Linked DNA regions of Homo sapiens: region 1 is linked to region 2. Evidence: fine-mapped expression QTL. Tissue or cell type: whole blood. Region 2 holds a variant in brackets; the other region holds the start of a gene. All regions are shown on one strand. Distances are between the middles of the regions.

The links. PIP is the estimated chance that this variant, and not a neighbour inherited with it, causes the effect.
Region 1: it holds the start of ADAM28, and the variant in region 2 is fine-mapped to the expression of ADAM28 in whole blood (TOPMed, PIP above 0.99).

What each region holds. Positions count from the first base shown.
Region 1 is chr8:24,290,365-24,298,475 of GRCh38, forward strand. It overlaps ADAM28 (ADAM metallopeptidase domain 28), which reads left to right and starts at 3,705. Exons shown (of 23, transcript NM_014265.6): 1 at 3,705-3,831. The coding sequence starts at 3,786. ADAM7-AS1 (ADAM7, ADAMDEC1 and ADAM28 antisense RNA 1) reads right to left here. Exons shown (of 6, transcript NR_125808.1): 5 at 5,790-5,886; 6 at 5,450-5,693.
Region 2 is chr8:24,336,332-24,344,442 of GRCh38, forward strand. ADAM28 (ADAM metallopeptidase domain 28) reads left to right here. Exons shown (of 23, transcript NM_014265.6): 15 at 3,135-3,237; 16 at 5,267-5,426; 17 at 6,770-6,850; 18 at 7,175-7,253. The region is part of intron 3 of ADAM7-AS1 (ADAM7, ADAMDEC1 and ADAM28 antisense RNA 1); the gene reads right to left. Among named protein-coding and RNA genes, the nearest start is that of ADAMDEC1, 44 kb to the right of the region's middle. The variant A/G (reference allele first, on the strand shown) is at 3,093.

The sequences.
Region 1 (8,111 bases), 46 kb before region 2:
TCCATAGTTTGAGGTCTGACATTTAAATCTTTAATCCATCTTGAGTTAATTTTTGTATATGGTGTAAGGTACCGGTTTTCTGTTTCTGCATTAATTCACTTAGGTTAATGGCCTCTAGGTGATCCATGTGCTGCAAAGAACACAATTTAATTCTTTTTTATAGCTGCATAGTATTCCAAGGTATATATGTACCACATTGTATTTATCCATTCCACCACTGATGGGCACCTAGCTTGATTCCATGTCATTGCTCTTGTGGATAGTACTGTGATGAACATAAGCATGTGTCTTCTCGGTAGAATAATTTATTTTCTTTTGGCTATATATCCAGTAAACGGATTGTTCGGTCAAATGACAGTTCTGTTTTAATTTCTTTGAGAAATCTCCAAACTGCTTTCCAGAGTGGCTGAACTAATTTACATTCCTACCAACATTGTGTGTTTCCTTTTCTCTGTGGCCTCACCAGCATTTGTTATTTTTTGACTTTTTAGTAATAGCCATTTTGGCTGGTGTGAGTTGGTACCTCATTGTTTTGATTTGCATTTCTCTGATAATTAGTTATGTTGGGCAATTTTTTCACATGTTTTTTTAACTGCTTGTATTTCTTCTTTTGAGAAGTGTCTGTTCATTTCTTTTGACCCTTTTTTTTTTTTTTTTTCTTTTTTTTTGAGACGGAGTCTTGCTCTGTCACCCAGGCTGGAGTGCAGTGGCGCAGTCTTGGTTCACTGCAACCTCCTCCTCCGGGTTCAAGTGATTCTCCTGCCTCAGCCTCCCAAGTAGCTGGGACTACAGGTGCCTACCACACGTGGCTAATTTTTGTATTTTTAATAGAGATGGGGTTTCACTATGTTGGCTAGACTAGTCTCGAACTCTTGACTTCAGGTGATCTGCCCACCTTGGCCTCCCAGAGTGCTAGGATTACAGGCATGAGCCACTGCACCCACCCTTTTGCCCATTTTTAAATGAGGTTACTTATCTCATGCTTGTTCAATTGTTTAAGTTCTTTATAGATTCTGGATATTAGACTTTTGTCAGCTGTGTAGTTTGCTCATATTTTCACCCGTTATGTAGGTTGTTGGTTTGCTCTGCTGATAGTTTCTTTTTGCTCTACAGAAGCTCTTTAATTTAATTAGGTCCCACTCATCCATTTTTGTTTTCATTGCAATTGCTTTTGAGGACTTAAGTTATAAATTGTTTCCTAGGGCCAATGTCCAGAATGTCATTTTCTAGGTTTTCCATAATTTGAGGTCTTACATTTAAATCTTTAATCCATCTTGAGTTAATTTTTGTATATGGTGTAAGGTAGGGGTCCAGTTTTATTCTTCTGCATATGGCTAGCCAGCTATCCCAGCACCATTTATGAAATAGGGAGTCCTTTTCCCAGGACTCCTGCCACCAGGATGCACTCCCTGCCCTGTTTGGTGTAGACCTCTGACTTCTATTGATAAATCTATTGTAACACTAAACACCTTGTGATATTGTGATCATTTATAGGTGGTACTCACTCTGTGCAATTTTATGGTAATTGAACTTATCTTTGTCAGATTGTGAACATCTCAATGAAAGTGATTGTGTTTTTTGTTTGTTTGTTTGTTTGAGACACTGTCTCGCTCTGTTGCCCAGGCTGGAGTGTGTTGTTGCAATCTCAGCTCGCTGCAGCCTCTGCCTCCTGGGTTCAAGCAATCAAGCAGTTCTCCTACCTCAGCCTCCTGAGTAACTGGGATTACAGGTGACCACCACCACACCCAGCTAATTTTTTTTTTTTAGTAGAGATGGGGTTTCACCATGTTGGGCAGGCTGGTCTCAAATTCTGATCTCAGGTAGTCTGTCTGCCTCAGCCTCCCAAAGTGCTGGGATTACAGACATGAGCCACCACTCCCGGCCATGATTGTGTTTTTTCAACTGCAATCTCAGTGTCTGACACATAATAGCTGTAAGTAAAATTACGTTGAATTAATGGAGAAAAAATATGTAATAATTAAAAGTTGAAGTATCCTTTCTGTTCCCTGGAAAAGACAAAGCAATGGAACTTGGGTTGAAAAGGCAAGAAATCTGTGAATCGCAATCCTGATGGTTAAAATGCTCAGTAACTAGACTCAAAAATTCCTTTGTGGTTTTAGTTGATGACTGTATAATCATTTGGAGACATCAATAATCACTGTAATCCCTCTAGTATGAGAATGTGTTTCAGAATCTGTAAAATGATGCATGATTTTAGTGGACTAGGACTAGGTTTTGTGGTAATAACTGGTCCTCAGCGTAATTTCTATTCCTTAGGAATTTCATAATTATTTCTATTCTCCCAGAATCTTTTCAATAGAAATGATACTGGGAGTACAAGTCAGCTAAGCCAAGGGAAAGCATTAGAGTATATGACTAAGAGCCCAGACAACACATAGTTCAGATTCCACTTCTACCACTTACTGGATAGGTGACTTTATCTGCTTAATCTTCTTAATCTATACAATGAGGGGACAACTGATTCTTAATCTTTTGAATTTTGCCTTTAAAACCCCAAATTTTCACCTGCAAAATGATTGTAAATGCATAATACATGAGTATCATAAAGACTAATAAAATAACAAGTACAGTAGATTTAGGAGAGTACCTGTATTAGTCCATTTTCATACTATCACGAAGAAATATCTGAGACTGGGTAAATTAAAAAGAGGTTTCATGGCCTCACAGTTTCACATGGCTGGGGAGGCCTCACTCTCATGGTAGAAGGTGAAGGAGGAGCAAAGACACATCTTACATGGAGGCAGGCAAAGAGAGCCTGAGCAGGGGAACTGCCCTTTATAAAATCATTAGATCTTATGAGACTTATTCACTATAATGAGAACAGCATGGGAAAAGCCCGCCCCTTGATTCAATTATCTCCCACTGGGTCCCTCCCACAACACATGGGGATTATGGGAGCTACAATTCAAGATGAGATTCAGGTAGGGACACAACCAAACCCTATCAGTACCTAAAACTTAATAAGCAGCTCAGTTGATATTAGTTATTTTATTGGTTATAAGTATGATTTTTAGACATGCCCAGTTTAGCCTTACTACCACCAGTGACAGATCCTAAAATTGTATCCTTTGGGTCTTGAATCCTTCTTCCACACTCCTCATTGCCAGTTATGACACAAATACCCCCAAGGATCTAAAAATTATTGTGCTTATATTGTCAGACATTCTTATTTCAGGATAGTTCAAACTTCCTGAGAGTACACTTGTGTGAGGAATAGAACATAAAATAATGGAAAAGAGAATGCTATATAGTAATTAGGTTGAATTAGAAATTGCTTTACATAACCACATTATGTATGTGGGGGAAAAATAACATTCTTAATAACTTTTTTCCTACAACTGTATATATATAAAAATATATTTAAACATATATTTATATATCATATCCGTAATGTAAATAAATGTCTAGCATGTTTTTCAAGACTCATTAATGCAGTTGCCTCTTTCCTTGTAGCTTATCTGGCTATAGTAATATGTTGGAAATGTACTACTTTGGAGTGGGGAGTATGGCAAAGGAGAGCAAAACAATAGTTCAGATCAAGTAATCTTAGAGCCAGGAGGCAGCCAGGACTTCCGCCTGCTGGGCCATTGTTGCAGGACCACAGCTTCGAGGTTGCGCAACACCTTTAGTAAACACTTCCTGAATCAGAGACAAGAATGAACCAGGGAGTTTCATTCTGTCTCACTGGAGAGGAGGCAGGGACAGACCCAGCAGCACCCACCTGAGCGAGAAGAGCAGACACCGTGCTCCTGGAATCACCCAGCATGTTGCAAGGTCTCCTGCCAGTCAGTCTCCTCCTCTCTGTTGCAGGTACATATTTAGCTCTTTTTCAGGTTCTATTGAATGCATTAGCGAACTTTTCATAGTCTCCTAATAGTTTTATTGTATAAACTATTTTGACTTTTTTCTTTTTCTTTTTTCTCAATCAATCTTACTAACCAGTTGGGCTGGTTTTAACCTGTTGTTTGGGGGCTGCGAGTGATACAAAGACAATGTTAAAAAGAGGCAACAAGAGGTCTTGAACCAATATGTATGCATCTCATCTGAGAATATACAGAAATAAAAGGGACAATTTCATACAGCACAATTTAAATCATGAATATGATTTTTGACTGAAAAAGTGGAATTCATCAAAACCCAGCTTGTCATTTAAAGAATGGTAAAGATGTGGCAGATTTATTTATTTATTACTGTGTACAAGGCTTAGGAAAATACCTACTATTATTATGGGAGCCAGTTTGGCTCTTTCTGTTTGAGTGTATATTTTTGTATTTACTCATTATTAGTAATAATACGTGTGACTAACTGGAAATAATTAATATTTTTTATTTATAAGGTACTGTGATATTACTTAACAAAATATCTCTGTTAAGCTTAAATTGATAATTTACTTCTATTTTGCTGATTATACCAAACATTTAAAAATTTGAAAGGAGAAAAATACTACTTCCTAACAGGAAATTATGTCTAGCAAGTCTCTCAATTTCTGGTAAATTCTCTAATTAGACTTTGGTTAAATTAGATTGGGTATTGTGATTCTTCAGCTTCTATTTCCAGAGCTTATTTAACTCAGCACATGAACTGCAGTGCCTCGAATTCCTCCCAGTAAACCTGTTCTTGGGTCTTAGAATGTTTGCTGGGACCTGGGGATGGGAACAGATTATCAACTAGAGGTATGGGCTTAGGGAGGGAAAAGTTTTCCTTGTCCATGCACCCTCTTAGTACTTTGTTGCTAAAAATGATTTTCCTGTGTCTCACCTGTTTCTGATTTGTTTTCAAGACTTATAAAAATTTCACTTAACCTAATATCTTTAAATATCGAATTATTTTCCTTTTGTTTCTGTGTATTTTTGCTTTATATAATATGTACCTATATCTGAACTGAACCTTTTCCCACTGTGCTGTGATCCTCTTCATCTCTAATGCCTTTTGCTTTGATACCTATTTTGTCTGATGTGAACGTGTTACACCAGCTTTCTTTTGGTAAAATAAGCCTGAAATATTAAAAATATATATAAAACTCATGCCAGGCATTTAACATTGACCTGAAATTCCTACTTTTTGAGGCAGACTTAATAGAAATGTTTTTTTCTCTCCGTTCTCCAAAAATGCTATCACCAAGAGCTTTTCCAGAACCCCCTCTAAGCTGAAATACAAGAACTGCTTGGGCACTAGCTTAGTTGAAGAGCGTAAAGATCAAGCTGGATCCATTAACAGAGTCACATGGCTAACACTGGGGCCCATGCACATTACAGTCCTTTTGTGCAACTGGGCACACTAATCAGTTCTGCTGCCCCGACGGTGCATGTATAACATGGCACCAAGAGATGCAACTTCCTCTGATGTCAACTCTAAAAGTGTGATGTCACCCCTCCTTTAACTTCTAGCTTCTATTTTTAAGGGTGTCTTTTTGCCACTGAACTATCCCTGTTATGATTCCCATTTGGGTTGCCTTTCTAGTCAGAATATAAGAAGTAAAGCAATTTTCATTTCCCAGTTCTTCCTGTTTGTTCTCTGCCCCCATCATCAAAGCAATACATATGTGCCCCTCTGACCATGACTTCTGCCCAGTCCCCAGATGGTTGAAATAAAAGAAAGAGATGTAAAATAAGGCTGGTTGTGTGCAGTGAACTTCACAATCCCGAGAAAAAATTGACTTATGGGATTTCATCCTAGGAAAAGGAAAAACAAATATTTAAAAGGATGTGACAGGTGTTTGCGGGGTGAAGATGTAAATGATTGCATCAACAAAGGAGAAAGGTGCTTACCTTATTACAGCAGAATACTCAGGGGGTACAGCACTTTTTGAAATTATTTTATTTCAAACTACCAGTTCTTCCTTGCCTTTATAAGGTAACTGGAAGACTGAAAAGAAAATATACAGTTTAATCTAAATAGTCAAAATAACAGACCTAATAGAAATGCAGTTTTTTCCCTTTTGTTTGTACTCACTTTTAATGCATGAAGTTTAAAACCACAAGATGGTTTGAGGAGATGCAGAGAATCCCAGGACATAAGTCAATATCCTTGTGTAAACCCTAATTCAGCGTTTAATATGATGTGTTCAGTTTGGAAAGAAGACATTTCTTTGAACAGTTTCAAACACATTTGAACGAAAATGAAAATGTCAATATTACATACTCATGTTCCCATTTCCAAAATGACCCCAAACACATGAACAAATAATGTAGCAATCCAGACTAATGTCTCTCATATTAACGTTGTTAATGAGCTTTGGCTTTTCTAAGACTCAAAACAGTCAAAAATAATTATCCCATCTAAACCAAAATAACAGTTTTCTTTTTCCTGATCTGGTTTTGCTAGTCAAGACTAATCCAGTGTGTGAGTTCTGTGGGAGAGAGAAGGCAAGTATTAAAATGAATTAGTAAAAACATATTGTGTTACACCTTGGATTTGTGTAATCCCTGGATGGCAGTTAGTTGTGTTTGTTCCTCAGGCTTCAAAAATAATTAACGTGATGTTATTCAGTGGGGAAGACGCTGCACCATTTCCATTAAACTTAAGGATGGATGAGCTAAACAATATTTAGGTCTGTTACATCCCTACAATGGCTGTGTAATTTGTTGTATTCCAGATCCCATTATTTCAGGGACTTCTAGGTTTCCAGAAAATAAGAGCCTTTAAGAGAAATTCCATTTAGTTTCTTTAGAGAATATATGGAGTGACAGGAGTTTGGAAGGAGCTGGAATTCCATTCACTTCAAACTGAAGAGATTGAGAGGTTGCCAATGATTTCTAAAAGAAATGTTGTGGGTTTTTTTTTGTTGTTGTTGTTGTTTGTTTTATTTTGCTTTGTTTTTGGTTTCCATTTGGAAGTGTTCGGCCACCAAAAAGTTGGAAATAAATTACATAACTTACATATTTTAAGCCCATATTTAAGAGCCAGTTTGCAATTTCTAATTTCATGAAACATTGGGATTCAGATACTAACTAGAAGCATAGAGGTCAGGGTGCATGTGAGAGAAAATTTGTGTTGGCTAGATGAGCCTGTTTTCCTTCTTACCATTTCTGAATGGTGCTGAGAAGGAAACTCACTTCATTTTCTGCTTTTATACAAAAAATCGGGAACGTAGCTATTATTTTATTCCACGAAGGCAGCTTGGACTACTATTTCCTGTTAGAATCATGTGTGTTCTAATATAGCATTTAAAAAGATTTATGTTGGCTGCAACATTGGTGAAATTTGGCTTCTTGAACTCTCTATCTTAACAAGACTAATTGCATTGATTAGCTACTGTAATGTACCAGGCAGCACGTGGGTGCCTTATGGTATGCTTGTTTTGTGTCCCTGAATTAAGGAGGCAGCAGGGAATTGTGTCAATATCATCAGTTAATTTCTGGCAGGAGTAATTTTCTTACCTCTTGGCATCTTAGTGTTTCAAAATAATTACAATAATTAGAAAAATTTTAACTCAGAAAAAGAATCATCAATTTTTCTTTAGGTTTTTGAACTTATGTTTCAAAAATTTTTTATAATTGATGTTATTCTTTTCCTTTACCAAAAGTTAATTTAATAGAAATAAAAGACGCCCAGCGATTACCTCTGTGACAGCAAGAAATGAGGAACTGAAGAACCCCGTGATGTTGTTCTTGAAGTGTGACAATGTAATGAGGCTTATTTTATCACATTGGATCAGAATTCAGTTATCCTAATGATCACTGACTCTTGAAAGAGGTTATAGGGGATTCTGTACTTGTATGCATAAATCATAAACCACTTGAACTAGCTTTAGAAACCATTTAATTGGCGTCCTTTTTTCAAACTATTTAAAGACTCAAACCAAATAAAAAAAATAAGGTATTCTAATGTCAGTGCCATGGCTTTAAGTAATTTTGAATTTTTTTTTAGAGTAACTCTTACACCACTGAAAGAAAAGATAGTTCATTACTTTAACACCCCATTTTTGACTCAAAGAGTTCTTAGCTGGTTTAAACCCTTTTTCTGTTCTTCAAAGTTAAATGTAAGTGACTCTTGAGTCGTTAAATGAATTAAAGTCATTCTCGAGTAATTTTTAAAAAACGCTGTTTTTTGAAAGTTTATGCTTTAGTTTCTGAAGAAAACTTTAAACA
Region 2 (8,111 bases):
CCAGCACTTTGGGAGGCTGAGGCGGGCGGATCACGAGGTCAGGAGATCAAGACCATCCTGGCTAACACGGTGAAACCCCGTCTCTACTAAAAATACAAAAAATTAGCCGGGCGTGCTAGTGGGCGCCTGTCCCAGCTACTCGGGAGGCTGAGGCAGGAGAAGGGCCTGAACCCAGGAGGCGGAGCTTGCCGTCAGCAGAGATCGTGCCACTGCACTCCAGCCTGGGTGACAAAGCCAGACTCCGTCTCCAAAAAAAAAAAAAAAAAAAGAAAAAAAAAGAAAAATAACTTTATTAGAAAGTCAATTTTAGATCATAAGTGATCTAGCTTATATACCTAAAATCTAAAAAAGTTGAACGCATAGAAGCAGAAAGTACAATGCTGGTTTCCAGGGTGTGACAGGGAGGAGGTGGGGAGATGTTGGTCAGAGGATACAAAATTTAAGTTGAAAAAAAAAGGCAAGTTTTTAAAAACCAGTTATTTGGACTTTCTGGATATGATGTGTATGATGTACATGTATTTAATTGCCATACTCCCTTCCTAATAGTTTCAGACTCCTACTTAAATGACTGAAACAATATTTATTAAAATAGAGAAAATCTACATAGTCCTATTATTTGAAAGGGGTCATTGCGTGCCAGAAACTTTTCATAATTCCTGAAAACAGAGCTAAAACAAGATTGAGAAAATCAACAAAAATTCCTAACTTGCAATGCACTGTGAAAACAAGAAACCTGGGAAACAAATAGACAAGACCCTAGAAAAACCTCCCTGTAAACTTCTCTGTCTTTGGCTACAGCGGGTTGAGACACAATTTGAGGAGCAAAGCTCAATTCCCTTAGTATGTCAGCAAGCTCACTAGTATCCTGGAACCAGGCCTCAGCAATCTTGCCTCCACTTCGTGGATGCGCCAGGTTAAAGGTGGAAACAAAATTGATTGTTGGTTAAGAAGCTCATGTTTCCTTGGCTAACTTCAGTATACGGCAAAAACCAGGAGAAAGAAAATCTTTAGCACAGAGGTGAAGTTCTGAGCATCACCTTTATTATCTTGTAGTAAATATTAACTGCAAACAATATTAACTGTTACCCTCCTCCCTCCTTTGTCCGACTTTATGATTAGTCTCCTCGGCAAATCTGTAAACTTCCTGGAACAGGGACATTGTCTACATTGTTCACAGTTGTATTCCCAGTGCCTCCCAGCACAGTGTCTGGCTTTAGTAAAAAGCTCAAAATTGTCTATTGAATTAACATTGAACATATTTATCTGATCAGGAAATGGAGTAGACCTCTTAAGTCATACATTTAAATACAGCCATTATAAAAGGCCAGAGAAAACAATTTGCCTAAACAAAATTCCAAATTTTATAATTCACAGAGGATCACGTATTTATTTTAAATTAATCTGGGAAGTTTGAAAAGTCTTGCAACTTTGTAAGTAATTTAAAAATCATTCTTTTTGGCATCAAATCATTCCCACAAATCAATTCTAATTCCAAGTATTGAAAATGTGGCTAAGGCATAAGCAGGCAATTTGTCATAAAGAAGAAATACAAATGTCCTGTAAAATTAAAATCATTTTAACTCATTAGCAATATACAAAACCTGAATGAAAACAAGTTAATCTTCTACATTTGCTAATTGGCAAAAGTTTGCTACAGATGTTAATGTTCAGTGTCACAGAAAACATAACCAAACAACTCCCTTCGTACACTGCTGGTAAATACACAAGTTAGCATCATCTTTACGGACAGAAAAATGCATACACAAAATCTAAAAATAATTGTTTTTTACTCCTTCTCCTAGCAATTGTACTCAAATAATTATGAGGATTTTTCAACCAGCATTTTTTAATGATAGTGGATAACTGAAAAACATCTCAAAATCCAAAATATATGGATTAGTTAAATAAAGTGCATTAATTCAATACAATTTTTGCAGCTGTGATGCTTTAGAAAATTTAATGCCTGGGGAAAGGACAGCTATATTGTTAATTGGCAAGAAGTTATAAAACAGCATGATGCCAGATATATGAATGATACCTTCTGCAATATCAGCAGCAATAACTCTGAAGTCTCAGATTAGGAATATCATGCTTCTCCCTGATTATTCATGACTAATGATTCTTTTCTTCCATGTAGATTAGGAATATCATGCTTTTCCCTGATTATTCATGACTAATGATTCTTTTCTTCCATGTAGATATTGTATTATAATAAAACATGAATACATTTTACTAAGATACAAATAATAAAAAGTAACAAAACTCATTTTATCTTACACATTGAAACATGAAATTCGTTTAAAAGTATTTCTTAAAAACAATGCCGTATCTTCATAGGTGTTTATTTTAACTTAGCTTGCTGTTTGTCAAAGGCTAGACTCAAAATTTCCAAACGTTTAAGACAGAATTACTTGTTCTTGAAGAGAGGGTACCTCAGCACAGAGAAGGAACATAGGTCTTTCTCTGTGACTTGATAGGATTCTGTTTCCTTATTAATAAATTGAGAATGGCAATAAGAATGGCTAGTATTTGTCAACCATGTACTGCTGACCAGGCACTGTTCTCAGTGGCTCACCTATATTAAGTAATTTAATCTTCAAAACAGCTCTTTGAGGTAGGTACTGTCATATATAATGTGTATATATATACTTTTATATATGTGTAAATATTAAATATATATGTTCACATAAATATAAATTATATATCCTTATTTTACAGATGAGAAAACTGAGGGGTTAAGACACTTGCCCATGTTCACACAGTTACTCAGTCTTGCTTGAAGCCTGGGCTCTTAACAATGTGTTTTGTCTGATGGAGATCTGAGGAAGATTACCTGAGACATGAAATATGTGATGCCTATTTTTGTACCTAGCACATAGTAGGAGTTTGTTACAGAGTAACAGATTATTTAAAAGATTATTTGTAATTCCAGCCAGCTCATTTGATACCAAATTACTACAGCCTATGTTTCTAGGAGTGGTCAATGGAATTATGCTAAAATAGTATTTTTCTTGCTTGTTTTATATTTTATAAATCGCTTTCCAGCACTGAATCTTTAAAATCTTTTATTTTCAAGTATCTCTTGAATCTCA[A/G]AAATCTATTTTCTTTTCCCTGCTGACTGATCCTGGTCCCAGGAACTGAGGTTGCAGATAAGTCATGTTACAACAGGAATGAAGGTGGGTCAAAGTACGGGTACTGTCGCAGAGTGGATGACACACTCATTCCCTGCAAAGCAAAGTAAGTGGCCTTGTCTGAACCTTCCTGCTTCACAGACTAGAGCAATGGTACACTTCCAGCTACACATTCTGATTTATTCCAGTTAAAGGGAAAGTGCATTTGGTCATCAATCATTTGACAAACATTTATTGAGTAACTACTATGTGCCATGATGTGGGCTAGGTACCGAGTCTAAAACAACAAATAAGAAATGGCTTCTTTCTTCAAGTATCTCATGGTGGGTGCTTCAGATGACACAAAGCACAGTCATTGTTGGGTAGAATGAATGGTTGTGATGGAACATGCCACAAAGAATGGGTCTGGTTAGAAATTTGTCCAGGGATTTCCCAGTATAAATCAGATGCTTTCTCAATCTCATGTTTTTCCTTGTAAGATTCAGAGTAGAAATATTTATCTACCCAGAGGAATAACAGATGCAGTGCTTGAACAGTTTTTTAAACTTTCAGTAGAATTACATAAAGAAAAAATACAATATGAAAATATTGACAATTCATCTGAAGAGTTTGTTAGTTTTAGTACTGATATCCGGGAAAACACTATAGAACAGCACACCAGAAGAACTTGGGATTTTTCTATGGTTTAATTCTGCAATTTTGAGATGAGTTTTAAAATCCAATTATAGATTAAACTCTTTGTACCTGCTCTAAATTTTACACATACCAAATAATATATAACAAGAGGTTGCACAAGATCAACATTTCCCAAAGTTTGTCTATTGGACACGAATTTCTCTGAATGACAGGTATTACCAAACTATACTTTGGATATAGGGTTATCTCTTGGGAGAATCTGTGCCTAAAGAACAATCATTTTCGGTGGTCTTGTGGTCTCTTCTTTATAGGAAACCAGGGCAGATTCAAAAGAGGAAATTATGTAAAAGGCAGTATGTGAGGGCCAGAGGAAGGGCAATTGTAGGTGGTGAATGGGAAGAGAGTGGGTCTCGCCATCTTTCCTTTGCAGTCTGTGCACACAACAGTGTCCCATATAACTCTTTGCATGAGCATTAGTTTCTGTGCTCTAGTGGCTCAAGCAGCTCCTTCACCCCACAAACTACCCTCCTAGTCACTTCTCAGTAGTCATTGGCTATAGTGAAGAGTTAGCCTGAAATTCCCTGTGCCCTAAACCATCCTTTATCGCTTTACCTAAGTGATTCAAGAAAAACACACTCTCATATTTTGAGAGAATATATGCCTTTCTCCACTCCTCAAACATATTTTCTACAGCCAAGAGAGATCAAAAAATCTGATGCCATCACTTTCTGGATACTTTTTTCACAGCCCTCTTCCGAATTCTACATAAAGCAATTGACTTCCATTTTATTGTCTTTTAGTCCTGTTGGCAGTAAATGAATGGCTTGAGTGAGTGTTGAGCAGTTTAATCTGCACCTTCAGGGAGACAGTTCTTTTAGTAACTCCACCTGATGCCTTGCAGTGTCAAGGGAGGCTCAGCTTTGTTCTGACAGCATTATAGTGGAGACTTGGGCTTTCTTTTGGTGGAATTATTCTGCAGCCAGTTGTACAAATAAATGAGTAACCTATCTGAAACAAGCTAGAAATTGATGTCTCAGATGCCTCCATGATGTTAGGAATCCATGTTTTATCCTCTAGCTCCATCATCCACATGACTTTCATTTCCATGTGTTTCTCTAGGCCTATGATAGCTTCTCTAGCTATCATACTCCAATCAGCAAAAAATGAGAAAATGTTGAGAAATAGAAGATAATTCCTCATTTAAGGCCACCTTCTAGAATTTGTGCTTAAGATTCTGTTTTCTTCTCATGGGCCAGCACTTCGGCAACTGGCAAAAATTAGGTGTACAGGGATCTAGGTAATACTGTTTATTTGAGCAATAATATATTGTGCTAACGTTCAGGCATCCTATTACTGAGAAATAAGGGAAAATGAGTGTAAAGTACAACTAAGAGTCTCGGCTACAGGGAAAAATACCATCAGTTAAATATCCATAGTCCTAGAGCATTTATGTAAAACTGCAATTTGAATCCTGCAATACATTTTGGCTTTTTCCTCAGTGATACCATGTGTGGGAAGTTGTTCTGTCAAGGTGGGTCGGATAATTTGCCCTGGAAAGGACGGATAGTGACTTTCCTGACATGTAAAACATTTGATCCTGAAGACACAAGTCAAGAAATAGGCATGGTGGCCAATGGAACTAAGTGTGGCGATAACAAGGTAAGTTGAAATTGTGGCTTTCACTCAAAATAGTGTTTTTTACTTTGGTGTGCTTTGTTGTTTTGCCCCTCGGTTATTCACTATGTGCCTTGTTTCCCGATTTTGGGGTTCGCCATGCCTTAATAGAACCCACAGAGTTTGAATTTGGAACACAGAAATGAAAATGGCGCAGAACCTAGTAAATAGCAGGAATAAGCACTGACATTAACATTCTCAAACACTGTGGTGAAATTTGGAAATAATTGACTCTCATAGTCATTATTTCAAGAAGAGTATCATATCGTCATGCAGATAACACACAGTAGCATCCGTTTAACTTTCATAGACGAAGTCTGAAAACTCACTGAAAGTGCCAGTGTATGTGATACTGGGCTTCATTTAACAGATCTGTATATCATTAATAATATAATGAACTTAAATACGAGTACTGTTTAGCCAGGGCCAATCAATTCACGAACTTTGACCATGAGGTTTGTCTCTCTTAAGAGATTAGAATTACCCTCTTTATATATTCACTAAGATATCCACATGACCAAAGAGTTCCCCTGATTTTTCACTGTGGTAAAGCCAATCCTCAGAATATTATCCTATTTACTTAAACTGATTTGGCTATTTAAATATTAATTTATCCAATGATGAGTCCAAAATTATCTAAGTGGTTCAGTGTGGGTATTGCTTATACGTGGTCTCTGAACCCCTGGAGCTGAAAATAAAAATTTAGCAATGTTTATAAATCTGCTGATTTGACATTAAAATATTAGGTCTTGCCTATAAGAAGTACCCACAGTATTTAAACTTATTCTTTTCCCCCATTTTTCCTGAAACATATGCTAGCATCAAGGGCAAGGAATTTTATATAAAATATAATATTTAACTGCGTTTTCCAGGTTTTACTAATTTCCTTGTATTTTCTAGTGCTGAAGCCTTTAAAGACATTGAGACATTATCACATGACCTGGCATGGATGTTGCAGTGCTTGGGCCTTAAGGGAGGGAAGTACTGGGACTAGGGCAGAATTGAGATGTTTCTGGGTCCCCTGGCATTAAGATCATCTCATTATTGCTTATCCCTTAACTTCTTGCATAGTCATTGCTTCTGGGATATACAGTTGTTTGGATTTTTAAAAATACATAAATTCTTAGATAGACTTTATCAACCTTTTTGGGTTGGTTTAACTAAGAGGATAATGTAAGCAACAGAGCCCGTCTCTGTTTCCCTTCTTCTACATCAGCCTCCTGGCAGAGCCACCTTAAACAACATCTGCTAGCCTCTTCACACAGACCTCAACTTTCTCATCTACGTTCAGAGAAGATGAAGCTTCATGTTTTCTACATCACTTTCAGGTTTGCATTAATGCAGAATGTGTGGATATTGAGAAAGCCTACAAATCAACCAATTGCTCATCTAAGTGCAAAGGACATGCTGTAAGTTCTGAAAATATGTTTCCCTAAGCTCTCTGAATCTTATGACATTCTAGGTCAGTCATAAGAAAGCTAAAGGAATATTTTCAGCTTTAAATGATGATAATTACTAAGTTTATCCAAGCCTTCAGTAGCATGGTTCAAGGAGAAATTTCTTCTGGGAATCATTCATGAAATGCCTCTCATTCACTCATACTTTTTGTAGATAGATGGAAGCCTGGAGACTGGGGTTATTCCTTTTTCTGCATGAACTTTATTATGGATGAGTAGGGCCTTGAGTTTCTGGTCAGCCTAGCGGGGACAGTAACAGGATCATTGCTCCCCTAGGTGTGTGACCATGAGCTCCAGTGTCAATGTGAGGAAGGATGGATCCCTCCCGACTGCGATGACTCCTCAGTGGTCTTCCGTAGGTAACATTACACATCTAACCTGAGAAAATTGCTCTCCTCTTCCAAGCCTTTATTTTGTATTATATGAGATTTCACTGCTTCTTTTCTCTGTTCTTGAAATTTCTGTTCTGTTGATGTTGAATCCACAATATTTATCCCCCAAATCTCCTTAATACCTTTTAATTATATTTTCCGTGTCTTCATTTTCACTGCACATGCAAAAAAATTTCCTCAACCTTTATATTTGTAATCTTATTTTAATTTCACAAATTTTCTTACTTTAGGACTCTTCCATTTTCATAGCAGCCTCAAGTTAATGGAAAAATGTAATATCCTCAAAACTCTCTAAGAATATGACCTATTATTTTGTATGTTCAGTTCTATTCTTTGAATTATCTGTTTCTTTTGAGTTGGTTTGTTCTGTTGTCACCACGTCACTTGTATTCTGTTGTACTAGTTTTCTTCAGGATATGTGATCCTTAGTTCAATGTGGAATTGGTAGAGCTGGATTAGTTCACACGGGATGTCTCTGCATTTGTGTGTGCTGTTGTACCTACTGATATTTCTCTTGATGGGGGAATCTGGCTGGGAGCTCTATGGGCAGGTAGGCAGGTCTGCCTATAGGTCTTCAGGGTGGGAAGGAGCCAGAGTGGGGACCCACCTCCAGTTGTTACGAGGAACATTTTACCCTGAGGAGGGAGCTCATCACCACATTTTCTCCTGAGAGAGCTGCTTTTTCTCATCATCATCTCATTGACGCTCCCCTCTCTGTCTGATATAGTGTAGGTATCTAGAGGAAGCCTCTGTCCTCCTGTTCATGTTCCTGCATCCTCTGTTTGCAGAAACGGAGAAATTCTTAGGATTTTGATCTCAGG